Regions from separate parts of the Homo sapiens genome. Here regions 1 and 3 are each linked to region 2. The links come from fine-mapping of genetic effects on gene expression. A gene starts in region 2. Each other region holds a variant in brackets. All regions are shown on one strand. Distances are between the middles of the regions.

Region 1 (10,242 bases), 62 kb before region 2:
TCCTCAAGTTTATGGGGAGGCCAACTCCCTGCTAGGCCCTTTATAAGGCAGATGGGGCTTGCCCTCAAGTAGCTTATGTCCTAATGGAAAAGACACAAAGACAACTGGACAGTAAATAAGATCACCACACACTGTGGCAGCATCAGGAGAGGTGCAGACGAGAGGCTGAGAAACATATTCATGGGGGTGCTGCACTGGAAGAAGGGGGTCAACACCAAGGGCTATTCTGAAAAGTGACCCTGAAGCTAAGACTCAAAGGAAGAGAGCTGGCTATGTGGGAGCCACAGAAAGATGATTCCAGGCTGGAAGAGCCTCCAACATCAGGCAGCCGAGTGTGGCCAAGGAGAGGTCCCTGGTGGGAGCTTGGCCCAGGTTGCTGGTGGGAGCAGAAAGGCCGTGGTGAGGAGCAGGGCTCTGTTCCAACTGCAGGGCACTGCAGGACCAACATCAGGATATTCTATGAAATTACTGTGTTTTAAAGAAAAAGAAGAACATCTTTTGGACATCAGAAAACAAAACCAAAACAAAGAAACAAAAAAAAACCCCATGGCATCTAAGAGGATAGAAAATTAGATTATCATCAGACTTCGATAACAATGCTTTATGCCAGAATAGGGTTGCCAGATAAAATATGAGATGCTCAGTTAAATTTGAATTTCAGATAAACAATAAATAATTTTTTTTTTGAGACGGAGTCTTGCTCTGCTGCCCAGGCTGGAGTGCAGTGTGTGATCTTGGCTCACTGCAACCTCTGCTTCCCAGGCTCAAGTGATCCTCCTGCCTCAGCCTCCTGAGTAGCTGGGATTATAGGCACACGCCACCACGCCCAGCTAATTTTTGTATTTTTAGCAGAAACGGGGTTTCACCATGTTACCCAGGCTGTTCTTGAACTCCTGACCTCAAATGATCTGCCTGCCTTGGCCTCCCAAAGTACTGGGATTACAGACGCGAACCACCGCTCCCAGCCCAGCAAATCATGTTTTCAGTACAAAAATGTCCCACACAATATTCGGGGCATCCTGTTTATTTGTTTTTGCTAAATCTGGCAACTCTCTGCCAGAAGAATATGGAATAACTTAAGACACTCAAGGAAATGTCAGCCAAGAATCCTGTAACCAGCAAAACCATCAACGATAAAAGGCACAATAAACTATGATCAGCAAGCATGAGGTCGAAGATCATGTTCCCATGAGCTCTTCCCACGGAACCTACAGAGAAAGAGCTTTGGACAACAAGAGTGGCAGAGAGCCATGAACAGAGGATGGGGCTGAGGGCCACATGGGCAGTCGCCCGCAGAACCAACACCAAGAAGGCAGAGAAGGGAGAGCACGGGATGTAACAGCCGTGGTGACTCAAGCAACAGACGCGGGCGCGGCCGTTAGATCAGCAGGCTGCGGAGCAGCACGTGCAGGGCAGTCCTCATGTTTCAGTCGTGTGACTGCTGATGGCAACATCAGTGTTATTCTGGTGTTAGTGCTGCCTGTGTAACGAGATCAAACAAATGGTAATTATGGGATAGTCCAATTCTATTAACCTTGAGAACTGGATTCCTGAGAACAGAGATAGAGACGTAACAGAAAAGAGGTTAGATGCGGTGGCTCATGCCTGTAATCCCAACACTTTGGGAGGCCGGGGCAGGTGGATCACTTGAGATCAGGAGCTCAAGATCAGTCTGGCCAACATGGTGAAACCCTATCTGTACTAAAAAATACAAAAATTAACTGGGTGTCGTGGCGCATGCCTGTAGTCCCAGCTAGTAGGGAGGCTGGGGCATGAGAATCGCTTGAACCTGGAAAACAGAGGTTACAGTAAGCCATGATCCCACCACTGCACTCCAGCCTGGGGAACAAAGCAAGACTGTCTCAAAAAAAAAAAAAAAAAAAAAAAAAAAAAGTAACAGAAGAGAGGTAAAAATCTCTGAGGTCCATATGTTGAACTGGAAGTATCAACATGAACTCATAAGGTATTTTATCTATCTACTGATAGAGATATTTCCTAGCTCTGTCTACTGAAAAGGCCCAGGAATAGTAACCATCCAGAAGTAATGAGCCCTCCAGAAACAGACTACTGTCTTAAAAGGTAACTTCTTGGCTAGGTGCAGTGACTCATACCTGTAATGCCAGTACTTTGGGAGGCCGAGGCAAGTGGATCACTTGAGCCCAGGAATCCAGGACCAGCCTGGGCAACATAGTGAGACCCCATCTCTACAAAAAATAGAAAAATTAGCCAGGTGTGGTGGTGTGCACCTGCAAGTCCCAGCTACTTAGGAGGCTGAGACAGGAGGATCCCTTAAGCCCAGGAGGTTAGGGTTGCAGTGAGCCGTGTTTGAGCCGCTACACTCCACCCTGGGCGACAGAGTGAGACTCCATCTCAAAAACAAACAAACAAACAAACAAAAAAACAACACAGCTTCTCACTAAAAGGAACCAGGGCTATTTTTGTAGAAATGGCCAATTCCAGGTCTAAAGCAAGAAACAGATGAAAGAAGCCTAAAACATGAGCTGCCAAAGACCAGCAGGGCCGTATCAGAGGGATTCAGATCTCAAGAGGCTGCCGCTTGCCAAAGATGAGACGATCTGAGCTTCGGTGATGGTGATGACTGCTCTGGATTGAAGCCATCAAATGCGTCCTTCCAAACCACCTCTGGAGGGTGATAGGAAACCAATCCACTACCTTGAAAACTGATAAATAAAAACACAAAAGAATCAAGGGCTGAACCTACCTTTCTTTTTCTTTTTTTTTTTTTTGAGATGGAATTTCACTCTTGTCGCACAGGCTGGAGTGCAGTGTCGCAATCTTGGCTCACTGCAGCCTCTGTCTCCTGGGTTTAAGCGATTCTCTGCCTCAGCCTCCTGGATTAGCTGGGATTACAGGCCCGCATCACCATGCCTGGCTAATTTTTGTATTTTTTAGTAGGGAGGGGGGTTTCACCATGTTGGTCAGGCTGGTCTTGAACTCCTGACCTCGTGATCCACCTGCCTCCGCCTCCCAAAGTGCTGGGATTACAGGCATGAGCCACTGTGCCCGGCCAACCCTGCCTTTCTTATATGAACCATACCCCTGGGTAAGCAAATGGTACCTGGGGCAAGTATCTCTTTGTCAAGGTGTTCCACTTAATGAAAAATAAATGATAGAATTATAGTATCATCCTCCCACCAATTAATTAATTAATGGATACAGGCATTCAGCATCAATGCTGCTAAGACTGACGTTCAAAGGAGAGAATACCACATATCACATGACTCCTATCGTCTTGCCCAAGGGACTGAGCTTGAGTCTGAATCTGTTTCTGAATCCAGCTGCCAATGTGCTAGAAATTCAGATGGCAGAGAAACATGTTGACTTGCACCTTGACAATGCAGTCAGCAAAACTCAACGATGAGCAAATCCACAGAATAAACAGCCAGGTTCTTCTACAGATAAATTATAAGAGAAAGAGAAGAACGGAGGGGAACCTGTAGCTTATGAGGGACTTAAATATGGGGAGTTGCTGTTTCACAGGCACGGAGTTTCAGTTTTGCAAGATGAAAAGAGTTGTGGAGGCAGATGGTGGTGACAGTTGCCTGACAATGAGAATGTACTTAACACTACTGAAGCATTTGCTTAAAAACGATTAAGATGCTAAATTTTATATTGCATGTATTTTACCACACTAAAAATAAACAAAATCACCAATGGTCAAGCCTCCAAAAAAAGACTTAAATCTATGTAAAAATATATTTATACATTATTATCTCTATATAAATTTGAATGTATATATATATAGAGAGATAGAGAGAGAGAGAGAGACAGAGTCTCCATCTGTCACCCAGGCTGGAGTGCAGTGGCACGATCTTGGCTCACTGCAACCTCTGCCACCTGGGCTCAAGCGATTCTCATGTCTTAGCCTCCTGAGTAGCTGGGACAGGTGTGCGCCACTATACCCAGCTAATTTTTGCATTTTTAGTAGAGATGGGGTTTCATCATGTTGCCCAGGCTGGTTTCGAACTCCTGGCCTCAAGTAATCTGCCTGCCTTGGCCTCCCAAAGTGCTGGGATTACAGGTGTGAGCCACCGCACAGGGCCTGTTTATGCAGTGGCGTAATCTCGGCTCACTGCAACCTCCCCCTCCCAGGTTCAAGCAATTCTCCTGCCTCAGCCTCCCAAGTAGCTGGGATTACAGGCACCTGCCACCACGCTGGCTAATTTTTGTATTTTTAGTAGAGACAGGGTTTCCCTGTATTGGCCAGGCTGGTCTCAAATTCCTGACCTCAAGTGATCCGCCCCTCTCAGGCTCCCAAAATGCTAGGATTACAGGTGTGAGCCACCGCACCCGGCCATAGGTAGGCTTTTAAAGTGGACACAGCTAATCATAAGGGAGTGATTACTATAAAAATCAGGATAGCTGTTACTTGTTGGGGAGTGAAGAACTGTGACTGGAATAGGATGCAAGGAGGGGCGTCTCGGTGGCAACTTCAGTCCAAAAGACCTGGTGGTAGATCTGATGTTGTTGTCTTAGAATGATATGTAATAAGTCACACATTTGTTTTATGTGGTTTCTACATTTCCTTCCCTTTTTTTTTTTTTTTTGAGACAGGGTCTCACTCTGTAGCCAAGGCTGAAATGCAGTGGCACCGTCACAGCTCACTGCAGCCTCGACCTCCTGGGCTCAGGTGATCCTCTCACCTCAGTCCCCAGAGTAGCTGGGACTACAGATGCATGCTACCACACCTGGCTTTTTTTATTTTTAGTAGAGACAGGGTTTCACCATGTTTTTCAGCCTAGTCTGAAGCTCCTAGGATAAAGCGATCTGCTTGCTACGGGATCCCAAAGTGCTAGGATTACAGGTGTGAGCCACTGTGCCCTTCCATGATTTCTTTTATACTAACGATTTTTCTTTTTTCTTTTTTTTTTTTTGAGACGGAGTCTCACTCTGTCGCCCAGGCTGGAGTGCAGTGGCACCATCTCAGCTCACTGCAAGCTCTGCCTCCTGGGTTCACACCATTCTCTGCCTCAGCCTCCCAAGTAGCTGGAACTACAGGCGCCCGCCACCACGCCCAGCTAATTTTTTGTATTTTTTGTAGAGACGGGGTTTCACTGTGTTAGCCAGGATGATCTCAATCTCCTAACCTCGTGATCCGCCTGCCTCAGCCTCCCAAAGTGCCGGGATTACAGGCGTTTGAGCCACCGTGCCCGGCCTATACTAACGATTTTTCAATGGGGATGAACAATCTTGAAGAAGAATAAAGTTGAAGGACATCCTCTACCAGATTTAAAGCCTTAGGATAAAACTAAAACAACTGAGAAACTGTGATATTGGCCTATAATCCCAGCACTTTGGGAGGCTGAGGCGGGCAGATCACTTGAGTCCAGGAGTTTGAGACCAGCCTGACTAACATGGCGAAACTCCGTCTCCACTAAACACACACACACACACACACACACACACACACACACACACACACACAAAATGGCCGAGTGCATTGGCTCATGCCTGTAATGCCAGCACTTTGGGAGGCTGAGGCAGGTGGATCACCTGAGATCAGGAGTTCAAGACCAGCCTGGCCAACACAG[T/C]GAAACCCTGTCTCTACTAAAAACACAAAAATTAGCCGGATGTGGTGGTGCATGCCTGTAATCCCAGCTACTCAGGAGCCTGAGGCAGGAGAATCGCTTGAACCCAAGAGACAGAGGCTGCAGTAAGCCAAGGTCGCGCCACTGTACTCCAGCCTGGGTGACACAGTGAGACTTTGTCTCAAAAAAGAAAAAAGAAAAAAAAAAGTGTGATATTGGTGTAAGGAAAGAATAGAGTCCTGAAATATACCCACTAACATATGATGCTATAAGTTGAATTGTGGCCTCAAAATTCGTATGTGCAAATCCCAACCCCTGTACCTCGGAATGTGACCTTATTTGGAAATAGTTACTGCAGAATTAATAAGTTGAGAGGGGGTCACACTGGAGTAGGGTGGGCCCTTCATCCAATATGGCTGGTACCCTTATAAAAGGGGGATATAGGGATACAGACAGGCACACAGGAAAAATGCACATGAAGATAAAACAGAGATCAGGGTAATAGAAAAAAAAAAAACCCCACCCACCAGTCGGTGGTACTTTGTTACTGCAGCTGTTACATTAATACATAAGGTTACCTGACCTTGTACCAAGGCACAGAAGCAATTCAATGGAGAAAGTAAAGTCTTTTCAACAAGTGAGACTGGAACAACTGGACATCCATATAAAAATAACCTTGCAGGCCGGGTGTGGTGGCTCACGCCTGTAATCCCAACATTTTGGGAGGCCGAGGCGGGCGGATCACCTGAGGTCAGGAGTTTGAGACCAGCCTGATCAACATGGCAAAATCCTGTCTCTACTAAAAATACAAAATTAGCCGGTGTGATGGCATGTGCCTGTAATCCCAGATACTCGGGAGGCTGAGGCAGGAGAATCACTTGAACCTGGGAGGTGGAGGCTTCAGCGAGCTGAGATCGCACCACTGCACTCCAGCCTGGGCAACAACAGCAAAACTCTGTCTCAAAAAAAAAAAAAAAAGTAATTAAAAAAAAACACACCTTGCCCCCTACATTTCACTCACACCCAAACATTAGTAAAAGATGAATCACAGACATAAATTTGCAAGCTCAAACAATAAAGCATCTAAAAGAAAATATAGAAGAATATCTTCATGACTTCTGAGCAGGCAAAGGTTTCTTAGACATAAAGGTACTAATCATAAAAACATATATTTATGTCTCTATGTATCCAATAAAGAACACTACAAAATAATCATAATAAAACGACAAACAACCCAGTTGTTAAATGAACAACAGCTGGGCATGGTAGTGCACTCCTGTAACCCAGGCTACTCTGGAGGCTGGGGCAGAAGGATCGCTTGAGCCCAGGAGGCCGAGGATGTGGTAAGCTATGATCACAGAACTGCACTCTAGCCTGGGTAACGTAGTGAGACCCTCTCTCTATAAATCAATCAAAATGGGCAAAAGACCTGAACAGGGGTCGGGCGTGGTGGCTCACGCCTGTAAATCCCAGCACTTTGGGAGGCCAAGGTGGGTAGATCACGAGGTCAGAAGATCAAGACCATCCTGGCCAACATGGTGAAACCCTGTCTCTACTAAAAATACAAAAATTAGCTGGGCATGGTGGTGAGCGCCTGTAGTCCTAGCTACTTGGGAGGCTGAGGCAGGAGAATTGCTTGAACCCAGGAGGCGGAGGTTGCAGTGAGCCAAGATCGCACCACTGCACTCCGGCTTGGTGACAGAGCACGACTCCATCTCAAAAAAACAACAACTGGCCCCCCACCCCCCAAAAAAAAGACTTGAAAAGGAACTTCAACATATATACGCAAATATATCTGAAGGTCAATAAGCATATGAAAAGGTGCTTCATCAATTTACTCACCAGGGAACTTCCATTTTTTTTTTTAAATTTCTTTTCTCTCTCTTTTAATTGAGACAGAATCTCGCTCTGTCGCCCAGGCTGGAGCGCAGTGATGCAATCTTGGCTCACTGCAACCTCTGCCGCCCGGGTTCAAGCAATTCTCCTGCCTCAGCCTCCAGAGTAGCTGGAACTACAGGCGTGTGCCACCACACCTGGCATTTTTTTGTATTTTTAGTAGAGAGAGGGTTTCACCATGTTGGCCAGGCTAGTCTCAAACTCCTGACCTCAGGTGATCCACCTGCCTCGGCCTCGCAAAGTTCTGGGATTACAGGCGTGAGCCACCGTGTCTGGCAAAGAGGACAATTTAAAATGAGAAAAAAGGCCAGGCACGGTGGCTCATGCCTATAATCCCAGCACTTTGGGAGACCGAGGCGGGTGGATCACCTGAGGTCCAGGAGTTCGAGACCAGCCTGGCCAACATGGCGAAACCCCATCTCTATTAAAAATACAAAAATTAGCCGGGTGTGGTGGTGTTCGCCTGTAATCCCAGCTACTCAGGAAGCTGAGGCAGGAGAATCGCTTGAACCCGGGAGGTGGAGGTTGCAGTGAGCCGAGATCGTGCCACTACCTTCCAGCCTGGGCAACAAGAGCGAAACTATGTCTCAAAAAAAAAAAAAAGAACATGAACAACCCAAGTGTCTGTTAACAGGAAAACAAATAACTTTTAAATTCAGAAAATGTAACAGAATACAACTTAGCAGTAAAGAAGAGTGCACTGACAGCAGCACCGTGCTCAGTGAATGCCTACGCTCACGAAGGGTCCTCCTACAACTAGCCCATCTACATGGAACTCAACAGCAGGCAGAATTAATTATGGTGACAGAAGTCATAACGGTGGGCCGGGTACACTCCTGCAGTCCCAGCCACTCAGGAGGCCGAGGCAGGAAGATCCCTTGAACCCGTGAGGTCAAGGCTGCAGTGAGCTGTGATCGTGCCACCGCACTCCAGCCTGGGCGACAGAGCACAAGCCTGCGCTGTGACCTCATAAAAGAGGTCACTTCTTAACAGTAGGTGTAGGTGTTAGCTGAAAATAAATACAAGCAAAACTTTTTGGGTTTTAGAAAAATGTTCCACATTTTGATTTGAGTGGTAGTCATATGGGTGAACAATGTGTAAAATGTCACCAAGTATACAGTTAAGATTTATGCATTTTACTGCATTTCTATTGAAGATTATGTTCAATTTTAGAAAATAAAATTCTGGAAGAAAATATGACTGGAGGCCAAAAGCCTTTCAAAAATTTGATTTATAAAAGTATCTAAGATAGGCAACAATGACACAACACACATGTAACAGGGAATCCCAGAGAAGGCTTCCGAAGTCATGGGGTACTGAAATGCTATGACTGAAAAACAAGGTCTCTTGAGATAAAACAGAATTGACGCAAATGCTGAATGCGCACTCTATGGACCTGGGGGGGAAATCAACTCAGAATAGCCAACACTGAGACACAGTAAAATTTCCGGTTTTAAGATATAAAACAGCCTGTAATCCTGGCATGCATGCGTGTGTGTGTGTGTGTGTGTCTATATATATGCAAAGGATTTATATATATATAAAAATCCTTTGGGCATCTAGGCAGAAAAGACCAAATCATATATAAGGAAAATCCCAGTCAAATCAGATAGTCATCAATGAGTTATCAATAGCAGTAACAGATTCTAGAAGACAAGAAAGCAACATATTAAGATACCTCAGACTTTTATACCCAGCCACTTAAACTGAGATGGCCTGGTGTCTAACACAAGAAACAGCTCTCTGGACCATGGACTGAAAGAATGACATGCAGGGACCAACCACGGCCTCAACTTGCAATCATGTTCCAATATTTTCATTGAAAACTTGATGACTTCTGGCTGGGTGCAATGGCTCACGCCTGTAATCCCAGTACTTTGGGAGGCCAAGGTGGGAGGATTGCTTGAGCCCAGGAGTTGGAGACCAGCCTGGGCAACAAAGCAGGACCTCATAACATACCCACAAAAATGGCTAAAATTAAAGACCAACCAATGTTGGTGAGGACATGAAGCAATAATGCTCATAAGCCACTTGTGAGACATAAGGTGTGGGGTATAAATTGGGGTATAAACAGCTACTTTGGAAAAACAGAAGGGTTTATCTATGCAACTTGAACACATACATACTTTATAACCCAAAATTCTACATCTAGGTAAACACTAACTGTGTAAAGGACAAATGTTAATAGTGGCTTATGCATTAACAGTTAAATACTGGATATAGCCATTTACCCATCACAGGCAAAATGAATCACTGTAGTAGATAATTCACTGGAATCCTTCACGGGAGTGAAAATAAATAAGCTGTACTATATGTATAAATTTCACCAAGAGAATACTGAGGAAAAGAAGCCAGATACAAAATTATTTACACCATACAATTCTCTTTGTACAACATCCTGAAACAGCAACACTATCTTCTATTGTTAGAAGTCACCCCTTCTGAGGGACTTGAGAGTGCCACCCCTGGGTGTTGTCAATGTCCCATTTCTTCACCTGGTTGGTGAATAAATACATAGGCTTACTGTGTGATTATTCATGAAGCTGAACAGTTAACGTGTACATTTTTCTGTATGTGTATTATACTTCAAATAAAAACAATTAAAAATGACATAGACGGCATAGATGCCCATCTCACTTCTGTAATCCCAGCACTTTGGGAGGCCAAGGAAAGAGGATCACTTGAACCCAGGAGTTTGAGACCAGCCTGGGCAACATAAGTAGACCCCATTTCTACAAAAATACAAAAAAACTGGCAGAGTGTGGTGGTGCACACCCGCAGTCCCAGCTGCTTGGGA
Region 2 (10,242 bases):
AGCCGAGATTGCACCACTGCACTCCAGCCTGGGCGACAGAGCGAGACTGTCTCAAAAAAAAAAATAATAATAATAATTTTTCACACGCCTGTAGTCCCAGCTACTCAGGAGGCTGAGGCAGGAGAATGGCTTGAACCCAGTAGGCAGAGGTTGCAATGAGCCAAAATCGTGCCACTGCACTCCAGCCTGGCGACAGAGCAAGACTCCGTCTCAAAAAAAAAAAAAATTTTTTTTAAATAAAAAAACAAGGCAGTTATGATAAACCAATCATAATATATATGAGAAAATGACTTGCCTGATATTAACATAGTAGTCCCCTCTTATCCTGTTTTACTTTCCTTGGTTTCAGTTACCCACAATCAAACATAGTCCAAAAATATTAAATAGAAAAATTCCAGAAATGAACTCATGTTTTAAATTGCAGGCTGTCTTGAGTATTGTCATAAACTGTTCTATTTTATTATTCATTGCTGTCAACCTCTTATTGTGCTTCATTTATAGTTAAACTTTATCATAGGTATATAGGTATGAGACATATCCCTGTGGACAGGGAAGGACTACTGTATGCAAAGGAGCTTGTGCACATCCCTGAGATAAACAGGAAAGAGAGCAAAGGACGTGCAAGAATTCTCAGAAGAGAGAGAGATCGCCGGCAGACATATGGGGACTGTGCTGACTGCCCCTAGGTTGAACAGAGACACTCAGCCACCCTTCCAGAGCCGACGGCAGTGCAGCACGGTGCTGCGGAAAGGTCCCCTTGTCCCCGTCGCAGGGCGTGTGACGTTGGTGCGAATTGCTTCTTCAGTGCCCCGCTGCCCAAACCTCTAGGGGGAGCACAGAGACGGGAGGCTGTATCTAGGGATGAATGTTTACACCTGAAGCCCCAGTGGGCGTGTGTTCCAGGGTGCTCTTTTAGTTTGCCGTCTATAGGCAGCTTGTGCTAAACAGCTCAATTAGACCCTCTACTTGTCGCAAGGACAGAGGGCTTTTTGTATCCCGGGTTCTTGCCCTTTGGTGTACCGGCAGAGTCGGATCACACCTGGGCTTGGAGAATGAGTGTAAAGTTCTATTGAGTGGAAGCAGCTCTCAGCCAATGGGGGAGCCAGAAAGGAGATGGTCTTCCTCTGGAGTTGGGCTGCTTGGTGGCCCCAGCTCTCCTCCGACTGCCCTGGCCAAACTCCACCTTGTCCAGCCAGTCGATGGCCTGCCAGAGTGCTGGCATCTGTTGGTGTGTTCTTCCACTGGCGTGTTCCCCTCGAGGTCCAGTTGCTTGTGTCTTCTTCCGCCAATCTGCTCCTCTCTATGTCCAGCTGCCTGTGTCCCTGCCTTGCTAGCATCTTGGAGGTTTTTTTTTTTTTTTTTTTTTTTTTTTGAGACAGAATATTGCTCTGTCACCCAGGCTGGAATGCAATGGCGCAATCTCGGCTCACTGTAACCTCCGCCTCCCAGGTTCAAGCGATTCTCCTGCCTTGGCCTCCTGAGTAGGTGGGATTACAGGCGCCCACCGCCACACTCGACGAATTTTTGTATTTTTAGTGGAGACGGGGTTTCACCATGTTGGCCAGGCTGGTCTCGAACTCCTGACCTCAAGTGATCCGCCTGCCTGGGCCTCCCAAAGTGCTGGGATTACAGGCGTGAGCCATCACGCCTGGCCTGGGTCTCAGGTTTATATAGGCACAGGAGCTATGTATGGCAGGCCAGGGTGGTCTTGGGAAATGTAACATTTGGGCAGGAAGGCAGGAGTGCCTGTCCTCATCTAGGTCCATGGTGGTGGAGCCCTAGCCAGGGACCATGCTCTACTCTACCCAGCACTTCCCTTCCCCTATTCCATAAGGGACCACACTCTTCTCTTCCCAGCCCTCCTGCATCAGTGGCTGGATAAGGGCTCAGTGGCAGAGCCAGTAAGCCATGAGCAGGCATGGAAAATCCCTGTGCCCTGTCCCACCACCTACAAATGGTGACGATCAGTGATGACTAGCTCCTCTATTTGTAGGCTACATGGCAAAAAGTGTCACCAGTCAAAGGCTTGCAGTGAGGCCAGCACACAGTTGAACACCAAGAGCATCTGACGTGCTGAGGACAGGGGCTACTCGGTGCTGGTGCCAGTAGCAGAACCTGAAGAACGGCCCCAACAAGCCTCAGTGGCTAAACATCCACTTTTCCACATCTATCTACAGATGCCCTCGTACTAGTACACACACATGTATATAATGGGGATGTCAGAAAAAAACACAAATGCCAATCAGGGCTCTGGTTAAATTAACAAAAAGCAAACGAATGGGAGAAGGTGGCAGGCAGGGTTGATAGGGTCTTCTCTCCCTACATAGCACACATTTCTGTGTGAATGAAAGAGCTGCTTCCTTTTCATTTAATTCAACCACATTTAGTAAACACCCGCCAGTCACCATCCCAGGCCCAGAGTTCCTGTCTTGAAAGCCCTCCGGCCACAAAAAGTATATGGCTGCCACACCTGTGCCCACAACAGAGGTGCTGCACTGGGTCCAAAAGGGTTAGGAGGGGGTGTGCGAGGCTGTGCAGGCCACAGGAATCAATAGCCCAGAAGCAGTGGTGAGCCAGCCTGCAGGGCTGGGTGTGTGCAGGGAGACTGGGAGGTCACAGAATGCCCCACCCACGCGTCAGGTCCAAGGAACCTTCTCTCCCAGCACAGCAGCCACAGAATCAACTTCCAAAGTCACCAATAAGGCTGATGACCCTGGGAAATGCAATCCCACAGCCCACTGCTCACAGTCCACCGAGAACATGGTTCCTCAATACAGGCCACACCAAGCTGTGTCACTGGTGCTCATGCAAACCCCCAAAACCAGGTGGCCCCTCAAGCTCAGTGAAGAAAGCACATTTCTCATGATGGGCAGCAGTCCATGTTCTCTGCACACTGGCTAGGAGCTCCCAAGAGCCACGGGAGCCTTTCCTGGTGCTCCTACCCCAAAGAAACCAAGCTGGGTGGACCGGCACAGACAGAGGATCTCTACCCCAAATAACCCAGCTCTGTGAAAGGGGGGCTACGAGACAGAGGGCAGCAACCAGGCTTCTCTCCTGGGCCTCTGTGGACCCTGGGAAAGAAAACTAAGCACCAGCACCTGTTTCCTGACACAGGAGACAGCCACGAACTCAGGCAAGCACATGCCCCACAGCCTCCACCTCTGACCCCCTGGTGTCCCTCAGCAGTCAGCAATCAACCCCAGCCAGTGGGAAATGACGAGGTGCAGGTCTCCACAAGCCACAGCGGCCTGCACGTCAGTTTCAAGTTAACAAAAACACCTTAGCCTCAGGTCATTCCACTCTGACATCAAAGAGAGACCAGAGACACCTGTTCACGGGGACCCTGAGAGCCTGAGACTGAGCACTGAAGATCCTGCTGACGGCAGCACCCTAGGGTGCCCAGACTGTCCATGCAGCCACGTCACAAACACGTACCACCTATGAAACATGCCGCAAACAACGATTCCCACACGCATCTCCAGCCCTCGCCTCGCCGGGACCCGAGGTCTTCGGGACATCTCCATCCATGGTCATCGCACTGAGACCCAACAGCTCTAAACTCAACTCACCACCCTCACCTGACTTATCACCGGCCCTACCCTGCCTGCCTCTTACCGCATCGTGTGCGTTCACCACCATCCCCTTCCAAAGTGGTCCCTGCCTACAGGGCTGTCCCCGACCCAACTCTGCTCACATCCCTAAGTTCGGCCACACCCCCGTACCCCTTTTCTGCTTACCTCACTGCACTTGAGTTTATGAGTCTGTCCCTTCCCCAACTGAGCAGGCAAAGGAGCCCCTCCCCAGAGTGTGTAGGACCGAGCCACCAGCGCCCGCAGAGTGGTTTCCTCTGACCCTCACACTGCAGCTGCACTGACGCTGCCCGAAAATCCGACCCCCTAAGTCTCACCTTGGCTGAGTGAGGGCTGGCTCCCGGCGGCCCTGCCAGCGCTATGCCCGGCACGCTATGACCAGTCATCCTCGTGACTAGGGACAAATCACCTTCCTGCTCGCGATCGTCAGAGAATACGGAAGGCATACGGAGGCCCGGGGCACGCCGGCTTTGCAGGCTCCGGGCGTATGCTTGGCTTCCCGGAGAGAGGACCCCCGGTGGCCCCGCCTGGGGGGAGAAGGGCCGGGGACCACCGCGCTCCCGGGGAGGGCCGGGCACTGGGGACCACCGGGCTCACAGGAGGGGCGGGCACCGGGGACCACCGGGCTCCCGCGGAGGGGCGGGCACCGGGGACCACCAAGCTCCCCGAAGAGGGGTGGTCGCGCGGCCGAGACGACTTAGCGGCGCAGAGGAGGAGCACAGCCGCACAGCTCCGGCCTCTCTTCCGGGCTGTGGCGCGGCGCACACCTGAGCCGAGGTCCCCGCGACACCCAGGACCCTCCCAGCGTTCGCCCTGTGACCTTGGGGAGGCGCCTCCTGACTCGGCTTCCTCCGCGGCCCCGCCAAGGGAGCCGCCCCAGGCTCTTCAGCCCAGACTTCCCCGAGGGGCTCTTCCCCAGCGCCGCCGAAGGCTCATCCCCACCCGCCGTTTACCTGAGGAGCCGCCGCCACCTCGGCCGGGGCGCCGCCTTCCCGCCCAGCAGGGGCCCGGAGTGGGCGGAGCCGCGCGCGCCGAGCCCGCCCCCGCTGCCTTCTGGCCACCCGCAGCCTGGAGCGCGGCAGCAGGTCCCCGCCCCCGAGCGATCTCTGCACTTATTGGTCGGGGGCACGTCTCTCACGCTCGCTCCACCCCGCCCACCTTCATTTGCAAAGCAGCAGTGCGCAGACTCCGCCTCACGCTCGGCCCCGCCCGTCTGTTGAGCGACAGTTCGGCCGCCACGGCGCAGGCGCGGCCTTCAGGCTCGCGACAGCTACGCCAGCCCCGGGGTGCTGCAGTCCCCGTGTCCCCGTCGGACGCATACAGCCCTGACGACCTCCGCTCCCAGACGCCGGGGACGCGGGCTCGGCGCGGCGTTGCGGCCGCTCGCAAGCACACGCCCGCCCTGGACTCGCGCGGCCCGCCCGCCCTCTGTCTGCCCCGGAAGCGCCAGCTGGAGGCCGCGGCACCCGGAGGGGGGCAGGACTCGCAGGGCCCTGCGCTCGTTGGGAAAGAGGCGACCAGCGGGGTCCCGGGAACTCGGGACGCGATAAGAGCGATGTGAGGAAGGAAAGCGCCCGCCGCGCGTCCAGGCTGGGCGTCGGCAGAGGCGGAGGCGGCGGGAGCAGCGCGGGCAGGATGTCCACTCCTGGCCGGAGGGACTGGGCTCCCGCTGTGGGGACGGCGCCCGGGAGAGCGCAGTACCCTTTGCGGATGCGGGCGCGGCCCCTGCGGCGGCTTCCCACGCGCCTGTGGCCTTGTCCCCTCCCGGTCTCGGTGCCGCCCCCGCCTCACGCACACCAGCTGCCGCGCGCAGCACAGCCCCACTTTCACTCCGATCACAAACGAACGCCAGCCCCTCCGCCAGGGGCAGGCCTGAGTCTGTATTTTGCTCCCGAGGGCTGCTTACAAAGCCCCGCACGGGACGGCTGCCCAATGAAGCCCCGGGAATGGACTCAGGTGCAGGCAACGACGCGGATAATCGAGACTGCAAAGGGAGGGTGGACAGAGCCAATGGCCGTTCTGATCCTGCAGTCATCACTTGGCTTGACACTCGCGGGCTTCCAGCTGTGTCCTGCCACTGGTGGGAGCGGAGGTGTGCCGCAGGGGCCGCAGGCTCCCAGGCTCCGCAGCAGAGCCCAGAGGCTCAGCCACCCTGGGTCGGGACCACCTGGCTCCGGTTCTAGAGTGGCCGCTTCTTGCAGCCCCCACCTTCGACGAACTCCACCCTGCCCCCGTGCCTCTCAAGCCCTTCTGACACTTAAGCAACCAATCCCACCTGCTTAAATTGCCTGGCGCAGTTTCTATTTTTTTCCTAATGAAGGGGTGGCCTGCCCCTCCACACCTGTGGGTATTTCTAGTCGGGTGGGACGAGAGACTGAGAAAAGAAATAAGACACAGAGACAAAGTATAGAGAAACAACAGTGGGCCCAGGGGACCAGCACTCAGCACACCAAGGACCTGCACCAGCACCGGCCTCTGAGTTCCCTCAGTTTTTATTATTATTTTCATTATTTCAGCAAAAAGGAATGTTGTAGGAGAGCAGGGTGATGAGAAGGTCAGCAAAAAACGTGAGCAAAAGCATCTATGTCATAATTAAGTTCAAGGGAAGGTACTATGACTGGACGTGCACTTAAGCCAGATTTATGTTTCTCTCCACCCAAACATCTCAGTGGAGTAAAGAATAACAAAGCAGCATTACTGCAAACATGTCTCACCTCCCACCATAGGGCGGTTTTTCTCCTAGCTCAGAACTGAATGTACAATCGGGTTTTATACCAAGACATTCAGTTTCCAGGGGCAGGCAGGAGACAGTGGCCTTCCTCTAACTCAACTGCAAGAGGCTTTCCTCTTTTACTAATCCACCTCAGCACAGACCCTTTACGGGTGTCAGTTTGGGGGACAGTCAGGTCTTTCTCATCCCACGAGGCCATATTTCAGACTATCACATGGGGAGAAACCTTGGACAATACCCTGCTTTCAAGGGCAGAGGTCCCTGTGGCTTTCCACAGTGCATTGTGCCCCTGGTTTATCGAGACTAGAGAATGGTGATGACTTTTACCAAGTATACTGCTTGTAAACATTTTGTTAATAAAGCACGTCCTGCACAGCCCTAGATCCCTTAAACCTTGATTTCATACAACACACGTTTTTGTGAGCTCCAGGTTGGATCAAAGTGGCTGGGGCAAAGCTACAAATTAACAACATCTCAGCAACGCAATTGTTTAAAGTACAGGTCTTTTTCAAAATGGAGTCTCTTATGTCTTCCCTTTCTACATAGACACAGGGACAGTCTGATCTGTCTTTCTTTTCCCTACACCTAACCCCCAGGTCAACCACAAACCAGTTTGTTTCTTCTGAGGTCTAACTGTCCCCTAGGCTGGAGTGCAGTGGCGCGATCTCGGCTCACTGCAACCTCTGCCTCCCGGGTTCACGCCATTCTTCCGCCTCAGCCTCCCGACTGGCTGGGACTACAGGTGCCTGCCACCATGCCCGGCTAATTTTTTTTTTTTGTATTTTTTGTAGAGACAGGGTTTCACCGTGTTAACCAGGATGGTCTCTATCTCCTGACCTCGTGATCTGCCCGTCTTGGCCTCCCAAAGTGCTGGGATTAAAGGCATGAGCCACCGCGCCCGGCCCAAGCTGGGTTTTATTGTTGAAATGAGGCCTCTCACTGTTACCCAGGCTGGAGTGCAGTGGCACAATCATAGCTCACAGCAGCCTTAAATTCCTGCGCTCAAGTGATCCTCTCGCCTCAGCCTCCCAAATAGCTGGGATTGCAAGTGGGAACCACCAAGTCTGGCTAATTTTTAAATTTTGTTGCAGAGACAAGGTCTCACTATGTTACCCAGGCTGGTCTGCAACTCCTGGCCTCAAGAGATCCTCCTGCCTTGGTCACCCAAAGTGCTGGGATTACAGGCATAAGCCACTACACCCAGACCTTGTCCTTATTTTCTGTATCCCAGGCAATTTGCCAAACAAGGCCTGAGGGTGAGCAAAGGAATATCAAACACATGCTTTGCTCTCAAGAAGCTCGTGGTCCAAAAGGGATGAGAAAGTGTGTTTTTCCAGTTCAAGCCAGCCCATTCTGGGGCCTTTTCTGCAGCAAACATGCCAAGTGCACCCACAGATCTTGGTGGAGACCCCAATTCCCCAGACTCACTGGTCTGTACCAAGCACCAGACCCTTGCAGACATTCCCAGGATGGCTGCCCATCAGGCAGCCCTGCCCTCCAGGCCCACAGCCACTGTGCTGTCTAGCTCACAGCAGAGATGACACATTTGGGTTGGGCTTCCCCACCATGGCGGCTCAATTTCATCATCTGTAAAGCGAGGATTGCTTGGTTGTGTTAGGACTTGAGATCCCAGATGTGAACTGCCCCCACAGGCTGGGCTCCTGAATGTCTTCTGTGAACGGGGGCAGGACTGCTACAGGTGGTAGTGGTAGCTGGTGCGACTGCCCAGAATGGCACCCGGCACAGAGCTGGCACTCAAACGTTAGCAGTAATAGTGCCCACAGGGCACTCTGGGGTCCAGAAGGGAGGGGCAAGGTTGGCTTCTGTCTCTTGGAACTGTAGGATCAGAGGTAGGCTCAGGAGTGGGGCCCTTGCTTGCCCTGGGGTGTGTGGTCAAGTCTGCAGAGGTCTCTAGGTGGGACGCTTCCTGCACCTTGCTGGCCTGGGCAGGAGGTGCTTCAGGCTCCAGTGGAGAAGGCCGGGAGACAGAGCTCCTGCCTGCCTTCCTCTGGCTCAGCCCACCTTAGGGCCCAGCTGAGTGTGGCCATGGCATCCTCTCGAAGGAGGGGGTGCAGTTGAAATGGTGGTTGACACGTATGTGTCCCTTTTCCTGTCCTTATGCCCCAGAAATCCCCACCCTCATTTCTTTAACAGCTTTCTGTGGCCAGCCACGTCCATAGGGGTCCACAGAGGCCTCACCCTGGCTGCAGCCCTTGAAATGGGTTTTCACCTCACAGAGAGTGGGCCCCATGTGGGCAGGACTGGTCCCACAAGATGTCCTCAGAGTGGGCAGGTCCTCAAAACAAGAAGACGCACCCTTTGAGGGCACAATGCAGGTACAGCTCAATTCTCCACTCTAGAACCTGCACCTCGTCTCCCAGAGCTGGCCCTCCCCCTGCCCAGTCCAGAGCTGTGCCAGCCCCCGCCCTGAGCTTGCAGCCCCATCACTCCCTGCCTCTGCCGCAGTCCCAGCAAGTCTTCAGAAGTGTGGCTGCTGCCTCAAGAGGGACGCAGTTCCCACCCAGCACCCCCTACCACCCTGGCCCCTGCCCTCTGACACAAGTCAGGTCTCAGCTGTGCCCCCCAAGACTGGTGAAACTGGACCACCACACCCCCTTCCATGCACTGCCCTCCATGAAGGGCAGCAGCAGGCAGAAGCTGGATCAGAGAACCTTCACGGAGCAGGTGCGTGAGTGCAAGGACAATGGCTACCTGCTCTCCTCCAAGAAGATCAGTTCTGGGGCCTTCTCCAAGGTGTACTTGGCCGATGCCACCCACGAGTGCATGCACCACAACCCCAAGCTGTCCTCCCACCTGCAGGGCAAGCGCCACACCATGGTAAGACAGGCTTTCCTCCCTCCCCAAAGGGCTCCAGTGCCCCCCAGCAGGCCCCTCCGTGTCCCAAACCCACTCAGGCACCATCCAGCTGCTCCAGCTTCCTCCGCCTGATACTCTCCCCAGTCCCATTTCCTCCCCAGAGGCCTCCCCGGGGCTCCTGCAGGCTGACCATCCCCTGTTCCCAAACCCCTTGAACACAAAGTACTTGGCACAGGAGGGAGCAGGGAGGTCATCACTGCCCTCCAAGGGCACTGCTCACCCAGCATCCCCCCTGAGGATTCCAGCAAAGTGTATAAAGGACAGGGGCCTGCCCTACCACAGCCAGCCCCTCAAGGGCCAAATCTCACACAGCAAGCGCCCTTCACCCTACAGATAGCTATCAAGATCGTCTCTACAACCGAGGCCCCGGTGGAGTTCTCCCGCAAGCTCCTACCCCATGAGATCTGTCACTCAACGCTACCTACAAGCACCTGACCATGTGGGCAGAAGCCTGGACACAGCCTGTCCCCACCCTCCGCCTCCCCAGCCAGCTGCCTGCCCCAGGCCTATCGCCCCCTCCCACCTTGGACCTCCCTTTCGCCCCAGGGCTGGAGCCCAACCCCATCCTGGAACCTGGATCTGGTACCCTTGACAGTTCCAGCATACCCTTGGCCCTGCCTCCGGGTGATGGCAGGTGTGTGGGCTGCAGGTGCAGCTGTATGAGACCTATCAGAGCAGCCGGCTCGTGCTGGAGCTGGTGCCCTGGGGCGACCTGCTGGAGCACATCCAGGCTGCAGTGGATCACCTCTGCCGCCCAGGGCTGGAGAAGGAAGCCCCTGGACTCTTCTGGCAGCTAGTTAGTGCCATGGCACACTGCCACAGCGTGGGCATCGTGCACCAGTGAGGGCGGCACCTGGGCCGATCGTCTGCCCACATGCACAGAGGCCCACTTGAGCCCAGGTCAGCCCCACCTCCCGCCTCCCCTCTCCCATGCAGGGACCTGAAGTGCGAGAACATCCTGCTGGATGTTCTTCTCCATGGCCTTCTCAAGCTGACCGGTGAGCCCACAGCCCCACCCTGGGGTTGAATGCCTCCACCTGCAGG
Region 3 (9,310 bases), 160 kb before region 2:
GGGGAGTCGGGCAGGCACGGAGCTAGCTGCAAGCATCCGTCTTCCCCCAGGAGGCCACTGCAGCCCGGCCCTTCTGTGCCCTGGGCCCCTCCTCATTGCAGCACCACCCACCGCACCACCCTGGGACAGAGGAAACACATGGAGGCCATAGCATAGAGCCTGTCTGTTTATAGATCTCTGCCTGTCTTGTCCGTCCATCCACTGTGTGTATATATCTGTGTATCTCTGTGGAGCGGGGAACGGGACAGTTGTGTAAAAATCCAAAATACAATTCTGACTATGAACAACCTGCAGGGTCAGTCCAGGTGTGGCTGTGAAGCCCCAACCAAACCACAGGACACGGGGTTGGGGGAAGGCAGACTGGCAGGCCAGGGTGACCCTCCTGACCAGAGGTGCTGCCCAGACCCGAGCCCGTTTGTCCTACTGGGGCTATGGCGGCCGACCCACCAGTGCCCAAGACCGCGAGGCTGCCCTGCCTCCCCAAGACCAGCCCTGCACTGGGGGTGGGGGTGGGCGGCTGGCCCAGCTCCTCCGGGGCCTCTAGGAGACAGTGGGGTCCTTGGCTTTGGGAGGCTCCGAGCCTGTCAGCAGGGAGATGGTGGGGTCCTCGGCGAAGCCGTCCCCTTCGGAGAAGTAGGAGCCCTCTCCCAGCTCAAACAGCACCGGCAGGTCGTTGCTCCCGGTGTCCACGGAGCCGGGGTCCAGCAGGAACAGCGGCTGCGCTGTGTAGTGCACCAGCTGCTTCCCTGCGGGGGTGGGGGTGTCAAGGCGGTGGGGGGTTGGGGGCAGAGGTGGGGCCGGTGGGACTTGGCTCACCTGAATCCGGGCTGCTGTTCTCTGCCTCGGGAGGCCTGGGGGGCTCCTGGGGAGACAGGAGCTCTTGGATCTGTGGGGTGGAGACGGTATTGTGAGCACTCCCGCTGGTCTCGTTCCCCCTCACCCCCCGCCCGCCTACGCACACTGGCCAGGCTGCTGTCAAGGTCAGGCAGGCTCATGTCGGGCACGGTCACCGAGGGGCTGAACAGCTGCGGAGGAGGGAGGGAAGTCAGAACAGCACCCGGGGGCGGGGCGGGGAGGCGGGGCGGGGAGGCGGGGCGGGGAGGCGGGGAGGCGGGGCGGGGAGGCGGGGAGGCGCGGGGAGGCGGGGCGGGGAGGCGGGGCGGCGGCGCGGGGAGGCGGGGAGGCGGGGCGGGGAGGCGGGGCGGCGCGGCGGGGAGGCGGGGCGGGGAGGCGGGGCGGCGGGGCTCCACTCACGTCCAGCAGGGCACTGGTGTCCACGCTGAAGCCGTGGCTGCTCAGCATGGTCTGCAGGTTATCCAGGTTGGAGTCCATAGCATCCAAGTGGTCACTGAGCTCATTCCTGGCCCGGGATAAGGCGGTACCTGAACCAGTGCCCCAGGCCCCACACCCCAATGCCCTCCTGTGGGAGAAGGGCTCCCCTTGACTGTACCCCCCAGGCTGCACCCCCGTGTACGCCTGCACAGGCTGGAGGGGGCAGCGCATTCGAGGACGGCCTGGAAGGCAGTGGAGGCTCTGTGCCCTGCAGGGGTGCGGCTGGGCCTATGCTGGGCATCCCTTTGCCATGAGGGCCTGGGGGCCTTGGTGGCAGTGGACCCAGGAGACAAGGGGCGTATTCAGCTCCAGCACAAGGATCAGGGATTTCAGTGTTCAGGGTTGGTGAGGTTTCCCGTTGCACTGGGAAAACAGGTGGGGCTCTGCTCAGTGTGTGGGTGGCTCAGTCCCTGCCCTGGTGCTGCTGTGGGGATGAGACCCACGGTCTGGTGGCTGTGACCAAGAAAGCCCTAGGCCACAGGGCACACCTGGGCTATGGGACGGACAGCCAGGCTGGGTCCCAGAGGTGCCCTGGAGACCCTGCCTGACAGGAAGTGCAGTCAGCACCGCAGTCTGGATCCTGCCAACACCAGAGGCCGTGCCAGAGCAGGGAGGCCTGTCCCTGTCATCCCTGTCACAGGCAATGACCACAGGCCCGTGGCCAGGGGAGCCATGACGACACTGAGCCCCCGCCACAGAGGGGTCTCGGCTGCTGCCGCCCAGGCCCGACGCTCATGCCCGGCCAGGCTGGGTCTGGTCCACGGCTGTGTGGGAGGGCCCGAGCGCTGGCAGAGCCCTCCTCCCTCCCCAGTGGGGTCAGCGCTAACCCTGGCTGGACTTGGCCATGCGGAGAGGAAGAGGGGCAGGGGAAGAGGCGGGCGACCCTAGACATCTGTGGAGTGCGAGCCAAACTGCAAGATACAAAAACAAGAGCCCCCATTGCAGGCAGGGGCTGGGGGTGTGGAGGCCGGCCCTGCTCACCATCTCCTGCCATGTGTCTGGGCAGCACGACCTGCCAGGGCCCGTGGCCTGTGGCGAGGGTGGCGGCAGCAGGACGGGTGGCTGAGAGCAGGGCCCGGCAGCCTGTCCGGACATGCCCGTGGCTTCTGTGGCGTTTGGGACTGTGGGGTGATCTGGCTGGCACCTGTCTCCCTCCCCAGCCCCGAGC[T/C]CCGAGGTTGGGGGTAGGGTCCTGCCTCGCCAGCTGCCCTGCTCAGTCCACTGGGACAGTCGGGGCTGAAGCCCAGGGCTGTGCGTCCAGGCGCTGTGGGTGGGGCCAGGGGTGGGCGGCACTCACTTGTCCAGGCAGGCTACGCTGAGGCACTTTTCAGGGGTGGAGGTGGGCGGGGGGGAGGGAGGCCGGCCCTCGGTGTCCGTGTGGCCCCTGGCGTCCGTGAGGGCTGTGACGGAGGCGGGGGCAGGTTCACTCTCCCGCAGGATGGAGTCAATGAGGGCGGTCGGGGACAAGAGGGTGTCCACGGAAGATGGGCGCCCGGGACTCGCCTCCTCTACCCGGGGGCTCTGAGGCGGGCTGGGGGGCTCCTCCTTGACACGCACCAGGGGGCTGCTGGATAGGGGCCTGCACACGAGGGGGGCCAGGTGAGCTGGCGTCTCGGCCAGCCCCACCTCATCCCCAACTCTGCCCTGGGCCCACAGGGGCTCGCCTCATTGGGGGACAGGATGGCTGGGGTGATGCGGCCCCCACCTCTCGTCTATGCTCCCGCCGGGGGAGGCCATGGGGCTGGCAGGAGCCAGCTCGGTGATGTCGGAGATGATGGGTCCAGAGCTGGCCACAGCATCAGGGGCGTAGAGGCTGGAGCTGCTGTAGGCTGGGGAGGGGGCCTGCAATCAAAGGCAGGAGGTCCATGCAGTGCCGGCAGGGGCAACCCACCCCACTGCCGCCTGCATGCCTGGGCGGGTGCCCTGTCTCCGGCACTCACCGAGTAGGGGCCCGAGCCGTGGACGTGCTCCAGGGAGAACTGCCGGCTATACTTGGGCATGGAATGTGCTGAGCCACTGTCGTTCAGCATCAGGGGGCTGTGGGGAAGGGTGCAGGTCAGCCACCACCCCCCACCTCGGGGTACCCGGGGCACAGCTGACAGAGAAGGGGGACAGCCCTGGGCCCCGGGTGGTGGATGCAGGCATCCCCAAAACCTCACATCTTTCTCTTCACCCCCAGGATCCGGTTTGACTGCACCAGTGAGATCAGGAACTGAATGAGCTGTGGAGAGAGAGGACACAGTTACCCCGGCCCTTGTGGGGCCCCCGCCGGCCCTCTGGCCCTGCCCCCACCTTGTTGACGACTTTCTGTTGCTGGGCATGCTTCTGCCGAAGGCTGGCCACCTCCCGCCACAGAGCCTCATTCTCACTGCAACAGACCAGGCTGGGTCAGTGGGGCCCAATCCCATGAGCCCCAGGGCTGAGGGAGCCCCACAGACCCTCCCTGTCCCCCATGCAGGAGCAGGGGTAAGTGTGACCATGTCTGGCCTGGCCCACCCCAGGATGAGAACTTGTGTGTGGAGGGACTGGGGGCCAGGGCCAGGGCTTGCTGGTCCCACTGCCCCTCCCTGCCGGGGACACCTGGTGTCACGTAGGGTGTTGGGGATGGATCCATGCGAGCCAGGTGCACCCGGATCCTGGCATCCATCCTGGCAAACACCTGGAGGGCTGCCTTGGACACAGGCCAGGAGCAGACCCTTGGGCCGCCCTTCCAAGGCCTGAGCAGCCAGGTTAAGGGAGGACGGTTCTTCAGGCTGCGACACTGGCTGTCCCATGTCCTGTAGGTGCTCAGGGCCCTCGCCAGGCCTGGAGGTGGCTCAGGGGTGGGGAAGAGCTGTCCCCAGCCAGGTGAGCAGGGCCATGACCGCGCTCCTGCTGCTCTGGGAGGCTGGGCCCTGTCAAGCCTGTGAGTCTTCTTGGTAGGCCAGGTCCACGTGGCCGGACTCCAGGAATCACAAAGCCGGTGGCTCCTGCTAGACCCCATGCAGGAGAGTCTGAGGCCAAGGCCTCCTCCATGACGTGGGGGTCAAGAGCGCCTGCTGCACGGAGCCGAGGAAGCCGTACTGGCATTGGGGTTCCCGCATGCCTGGAGCCCCAAAGTGGACGTGAGACCTGAGCTGGCCTTCCGAGGTGGGCTTGCCTCAGTTTCTCAGGTGCCACCGTGTGTTAGGCTCCTGCTAAGGTTTCCCCAGAGCCGCAGGGTCCCGGTGAGGAGGGGCTGGGGGCTAGCTCCATGGGCCCAGGCGAGTGTGGGACAGCGGTTCCAGGAAGGGCCTGAGGTGGGTCTGACCCCAGGCCCGAGGCGGGTGGGACGGGTCTGCTGTGCAAGGCTTGTCCTCAAAAGTAGGCTGGTGGGTCCCGCCAAGCTCGGAGCCAGGCAGAAGCCAATGGCCCAGAGGGCGCTGGGGATGTGCAGAGCAGGGGACCCTCCCAACCCCCTTCTGCACATGGAAAACGGCTGGCCCCAGAGCTGTTGCAGCAGCCACGGGCGGCGGGGCTGGGGCAGAGGCCCAGGGTAGATGTGCGTGGAGCGGGAGGGTGGAGCTGAGCACCTGGCCCCGGTCAGGGCCCTGCCCCCACAGCACCCGGGGCCTCTTGGTGGGCGCCAGGACCCGCTGTGGCCCATAATGCTGGTGTGGGACCTACTGCTTCATGGCCAGGAGCTTGGAGTCCATGCACTCCTGCTTCCCCTTCATCAGCTGCACGTCCGTCAGCAGCTTGGTGACGCTGTCCTGGCGGATCTTTATGTCTTCACTCTTCAGGGTGGACACCTGGATTCCCGAGAGGGACAGGAGTCACTGGAGCAGCCTAGGAGCTTGGCAGGCTCAGGCTCGTCCACTGCAGCCAGGTCCCTCAGGAAGGGGCAGGCTGGGGTGGGAGCCCTCAGGGAGGGGCGGGCGGGGAGAGCTGTGGCAGGTGAGACCGGGCAAGGGTGCAGGGCCGGCACTCACACTGGTCACTTTCCTCTTGATGTTCTCAAGGAGCTGCTCCTGGCCACGCAGGAAGCATGGGTGCTGGAACTCCGTGTCGTCTCTCTCTGGCTTGACCAGGCCGCCCTGCTCGATGTGGACCACTTTCCGGAAGCCATCTGCACATAACAGGGAAGGGGGCAGCTCTGCCTCAGGGCGGGACCAGAACCCCTGAAGAGCGGCCACTGCTCCAGGAGGCTGCTGCGGGGCTTGGCCATGGTCAGACCCTGCCCTGCCCCCTCAGAGCCCATGCCTGGGTGGCCGAGTGGCCTTGGTCTAAGGGAGACCCTGTGTCCCCACAGGGCTCCCTGCGCCCGACACACGTGGAGTACAGCTCCGGCTTCACGGTTCTTCCATGGGGACCCCAGGTTCATACCCACAAGGACCCTCCCCCATGGAAGAGGCGGCTGCTCCCCGGCCCCCAGGCTTGCAGGGTCCCACGCCATGCCCTTGGCCAGCACAGGACGCCCCGTCCTTCATCACAGGGTCCTCCTGCTGGGGTCCCGCCATCTGCAGGTCTGCCTCCCGCACCCCTGCGCTGCCTGGAGGCAGCACTCACACATGTTGAGCTGCCGCACGAAGCTGGCCATGTTGTTGTGCTTGAAGTACTTGGGCAGCACCTCCTTGGCAAACTGGCCCTGGTCGAACACGTGGAAGCTGTTCCCGCTCTGAAAGGGAGACACATGGGTGGGTCACGCGTGGTGGTGAGGGGCAGCGTGCCCAAGCCGCCCCTTCCCCAGGCCGCCCCTTCTGAAACGCAGGCAGTGCACGTTCCACCTGATGGGGCTGGGGCCATGGGAGGCCCAGGGGGCTGGCGGGAGGCGAGTTCGTTCCTGGGACCACCTGCCACACGGGCCTCATCTGTGCAGCGTGACCTGCATCCTCACTGTGAGGCCCAGGACTGGGCGGTGGGCAGATGCGAGGCCTTCCTCTCAGTCGGAAAGCCCCTCCCCAGGGCTTCCAGAGAAGGCCACGTTTCCACTCACAAAGCATCCGCCGCACTCTGGCCACATTTCCACTCACAAAGCACCCGCCGCACTCTGGCCACGTTTCCACTCACAAAGCACCTGTTTAAGCAGGACCTTTCCCTTGGGAACAGCGAAGGAAATGGAGCCCTAATTTCATTACTCCCGAGGAAAACACAGTCGCGTTCAGAAATCCAAATTCAGTCTTGTTTTGTGACGTGAGACAAGAAACAGAGACAGTCAAACACTGCATATACCTTCCTCTTCCATTTCTCTACCGAGCTCAGGCCCAGAGCTATCAGGAGGCGCTGGTGAGGGAGGCATCCCTGTTGGCCGTGGCCGCGGTGGCTCAGAGGGGACATCGAAGGCTTAGGGGACAGCGAGAAGCCCACACGGCGGGGAAGGGGGGCCTGAAGCAGGGCCAGAGAGGGGTGAGGGGTGTCTGCATAGGAAGGGGCGGCTGACTCAGTGAAGAAACTGGTGAAGGGCAGTGGGGCAGGTTTCTCCCTGCCAGGGAAGGGAGCTGCAGATGCAAACAGGGAAAAAGCCAGAAAGACCCCCGTGGTGTGGCACTAGAAGTGGAGAACCTCTTTCCAGCATAGAGAGATGTGAAATACACAGGGATGTACACGTGTCAGGGAGGGAAACGGTCACGGAAAGGACCCCAAGGCAGCAGGAGAGAGACGGCGAAAAGCGCCAAGCCAACTTTCCAGAACTCTGAAAGTTAACCAAAGAATTACAGTAGCACGGGGAGCATTTATTCAAGAAAAACAGCTGAATCTTAGTAAGAACAGTGGGCTTTGTGAACTTTTTTTTTTTCTGAGACAAGGTCTTGCTCAGGCTGGAGTGCACCAGCACCAACATGGCTCACTGCAGCCTCTGCATCCCAGTTCAAGCGATTCTCGTGCCTCAGCCTCCCAGTTCAAGCGATTCTCGTGCCTCAGCCTCCCGAGTTCAAGTGATTCTCCTGCCTCAGCCTCCCGAGTAGCTGACTATAGGCGCCACCACGCCCGGCTCATTTCTGTATTTTTAGGAGAGATGGGGTTTCACCATGTTGCCCAGACTGGTCTCGAATTCCTGACCTCAATCAATCCGCCCACCTTGGCCTCCTGCAGTGCTGGGATTACAGGCGTGAGCCTCTGTGCCCAGCCAGGCTTTGTGGCATTTTACATGCCCTATTCCCACTCCATCTGCAGCCTTAAAAACCAACAGCTGCAGTCCCCGTGGGAACAGCGTCCTGGCAGCCGCTGCGGGGTGGGCCAGGGCTTGAGCTCCTCCAGGGCCCCATTCCCAGAGGACTGTCAGCATCTGACCTAAGAGTCCACTCCCAAGGCTGTCTCTGATTTGACTTGAAGCTCTCCTGAATAAAAAAGCTGTTTGCCGAGGTGTGCCTGTTGAAACCTTTACAGGTGATTTTTGAACGCTGTGGCTGCCTGAGGCAGTGCCTGGCAGCTGGGGAGAAGGAGGTGCCACTAGGGGCTCTGAAAAGCTCTGAGATATTCCAGGACATCTCGCAGCCGTGTACACGTGTGAGCCGTGCCCGTGCTCAGGAAAGACCTGAGCCAGCCCCGAGCTCTCACTTCTGGCTGACCTTGAGGCTCTGTGTAAGCAGGAAGTCAGGCATACAGTTGGGTTGTCCACTGCCTGGCCGAGTGCTGAAGGCGTCCCCAACACACACACACACACACACAGCCCCCGGAAAAGACGGGAGACTCACTGGCCCCAGGCATTCAAGAACATTTCTGCCCCATCACCACCTATCTCAGTTAACTGAACAGAGACGGCAGTGGCCATAAACAAGAAAGAACGCAACCTTTACAGAATTAGTGCCGAAAAGCTACCTGACAGATAACCACGACAAACAGCAGCAATGACAAATCCTGGGGAGGTGGGGGAGTCCGAGCTCCAGAGCTGCCACTCTCAACCGATGAGAGTTCCAGTTTTCCAGCCGGCTGCGCTGGTTCACGCCTGCGGTCCCAGCACTTTGGGAAGCCGAGGCGGGTGGGTTGCTCAAGCTCAGGAGTTGGAGACTGGCCTGGGCAACATGGCAAAACCCCGTCTCTAGAAGAAATACAAAAATTAAGTGGGCGTGGTGGCGCACACCTATCATCCCAGCTACTCAGGAGGCTGAGGAGGGAGGATCCCTTGAGCTCCGGAGGTGAAGGCTGCAGTGAGCTGTGATTGAACTACTGCGCTCCAGCCTGGGTAACAGACTCAAAAACAAACAAACAAACAAACAAACAAAAAACTCTAGTTAAAAAAAAAAATAGAGATATGCAAAGAAACAAGAAGCTAGGACCCATACCCCATACACGGGAAAAAAAAAAAAAGGCAATCAATAGAAACTGTCCCCAAAGAAGCCAAAACATTGGACACTGGACTTACGAGGCAAAGATTTTAAGTCAATCATTTCAAATATGTTCAAACAACTAAAGGAAACCACATCTGAAGAACTAAAGTATGAGAATGACATCTTATCAGAGAGTATCAATAAAGAGATAAAAATTGTAAAGAAGCCCGAAATCAAAATTATGGAGCTGAAGAGTTTAATAACTCAGATTAAAAGTCAACCAGAGGGGCCGGGCGCGGTGGCTCACGCCTGTAATCCCAGCAGTTTGGGAGGCCAAGGCAGGCGGATCACCTGAGGTCAGGAGTTGGAGACCAACCTGACCAACATGGAGAAACCCCGTCTCTACTAAAAATACAAAATTAGCCAGGTGTGGTGGCTCATGCCTGTAATCCCGGCTACTCAGGAGGCTGAGGCAGGAGAATTGTTTGAACCCGGGAGGCAGAGGTTGCAGTGAGCCGAGATCGCGCCATTGCACTCCAGCCTGGGCTACAGAGTGAGACTCCGTCTCAAAAAAAAAAAAAAAAAAAAAAAAAAATTAACCAGAGGGGCTTAAGAGCAGACCTGACTAGGAGAAGAAGGAGTCAGCAAACATGAAGATCAGTCAATTGAGGTGCTCCAGTAGGAGAAAAAAAGACAGAAGGAATAAGAAGGAGGAGCCGGCCAGGCGCAGTGGCTCACGCCTGTAATCTCAGCACTTT

Which allele goes with the higher level. Alleles are on the strand shown, and positions count from the first base shown. SD is a standard deviation of normalised expression in the study named. Not every link is listed here.
With allele T in place of C in region 3, the expression in cerebellar hemisphere of the gene that starts at base 4,604 in region 2 is lower (small effect, 0.24 SD a copy in GTEx).

The links. PIP is the estimated chance that this variant, and not a neighbour inherited with it, causes the effect. A credible set is the group of variants that fine-mapping cannot tell apart.
Region 1: its variant is the best candidate, but not a certain one, in a credible set for the expression of MROH1 in whole blood (TOPMed, PIP 0.72).
Region 3: its variant is the best candidate, but not a certain one, in a credible set for the expression of MROH1 in cerebellar hemisphere (GTEx, PIP 0.88).

Annotation. Positions count from the first base shown.
Region 1 is chr8:144,204,232-144,214,473 of GRCh38, reverse strand. All of the region lies in intron 12 of MROH1 (maestro heat like repeat family member 1), which reads right to left. Among named protein-coding and RNA genes, the nearest start is that of MIR7112, 53 kb to the left of the region's middle. The variant T/C (reference allele first, on the strand shown) is at 5,553.
Region 2 is chr8:144,142,378-144,152,619 of GRCh38, reverse strand. It overlaps MROH1 (maestro heat like repeat family member 1), which reads right to left and starts at 4,604. Exons shown (of 44, transcript NM_032450.3): 1 at 4,544-4,604. It also overlaps the pseudogene TSSK5P. RefSeq lists silencers at 4,373-4,752, 4,923-5,122, 5,243-5,332.
Region 3 is chr8:144,305,561-144,314,870 of GRCh38, reverse strand. HSF1 (heat shock transcription factor 1) reads right to left here. Exons shown (of 13, transcript NM_005526.4): 2 at 5,857-5,965; 3 at 5,280-5,416; 4 at 4,975-5,099; 5 at 3,622-3,697; 6 at 3,489-3,550; 7 at 3,270-3,366; 8 at 3,035-3,171; 9 at 2,627-2,908; 10 at 1,255-1,360; 11 at 960-1,025; 12 at 817-886; 13 at 151-746. The coding sequence ends at 541. It overlaps DGAT1 (diacylglycerol O-acyltransferase 1), which reads left to right. Exons shown (of 17, transcript NM_012079.6): 17 at 1-287. It overlaps LOC124902050, which reads left to right. Exons shown (of 2, transcript XM_047422537.1): 2 at 51-287. Among named protein-coding and RNA genes, the nearest start is that of MIR6848, 7.1 kb to the left of the region's middle. RefSeq lists an enhancer at 1,555-2,086. The variant T/C (reference allele first, on the strand shown) is at 2,501.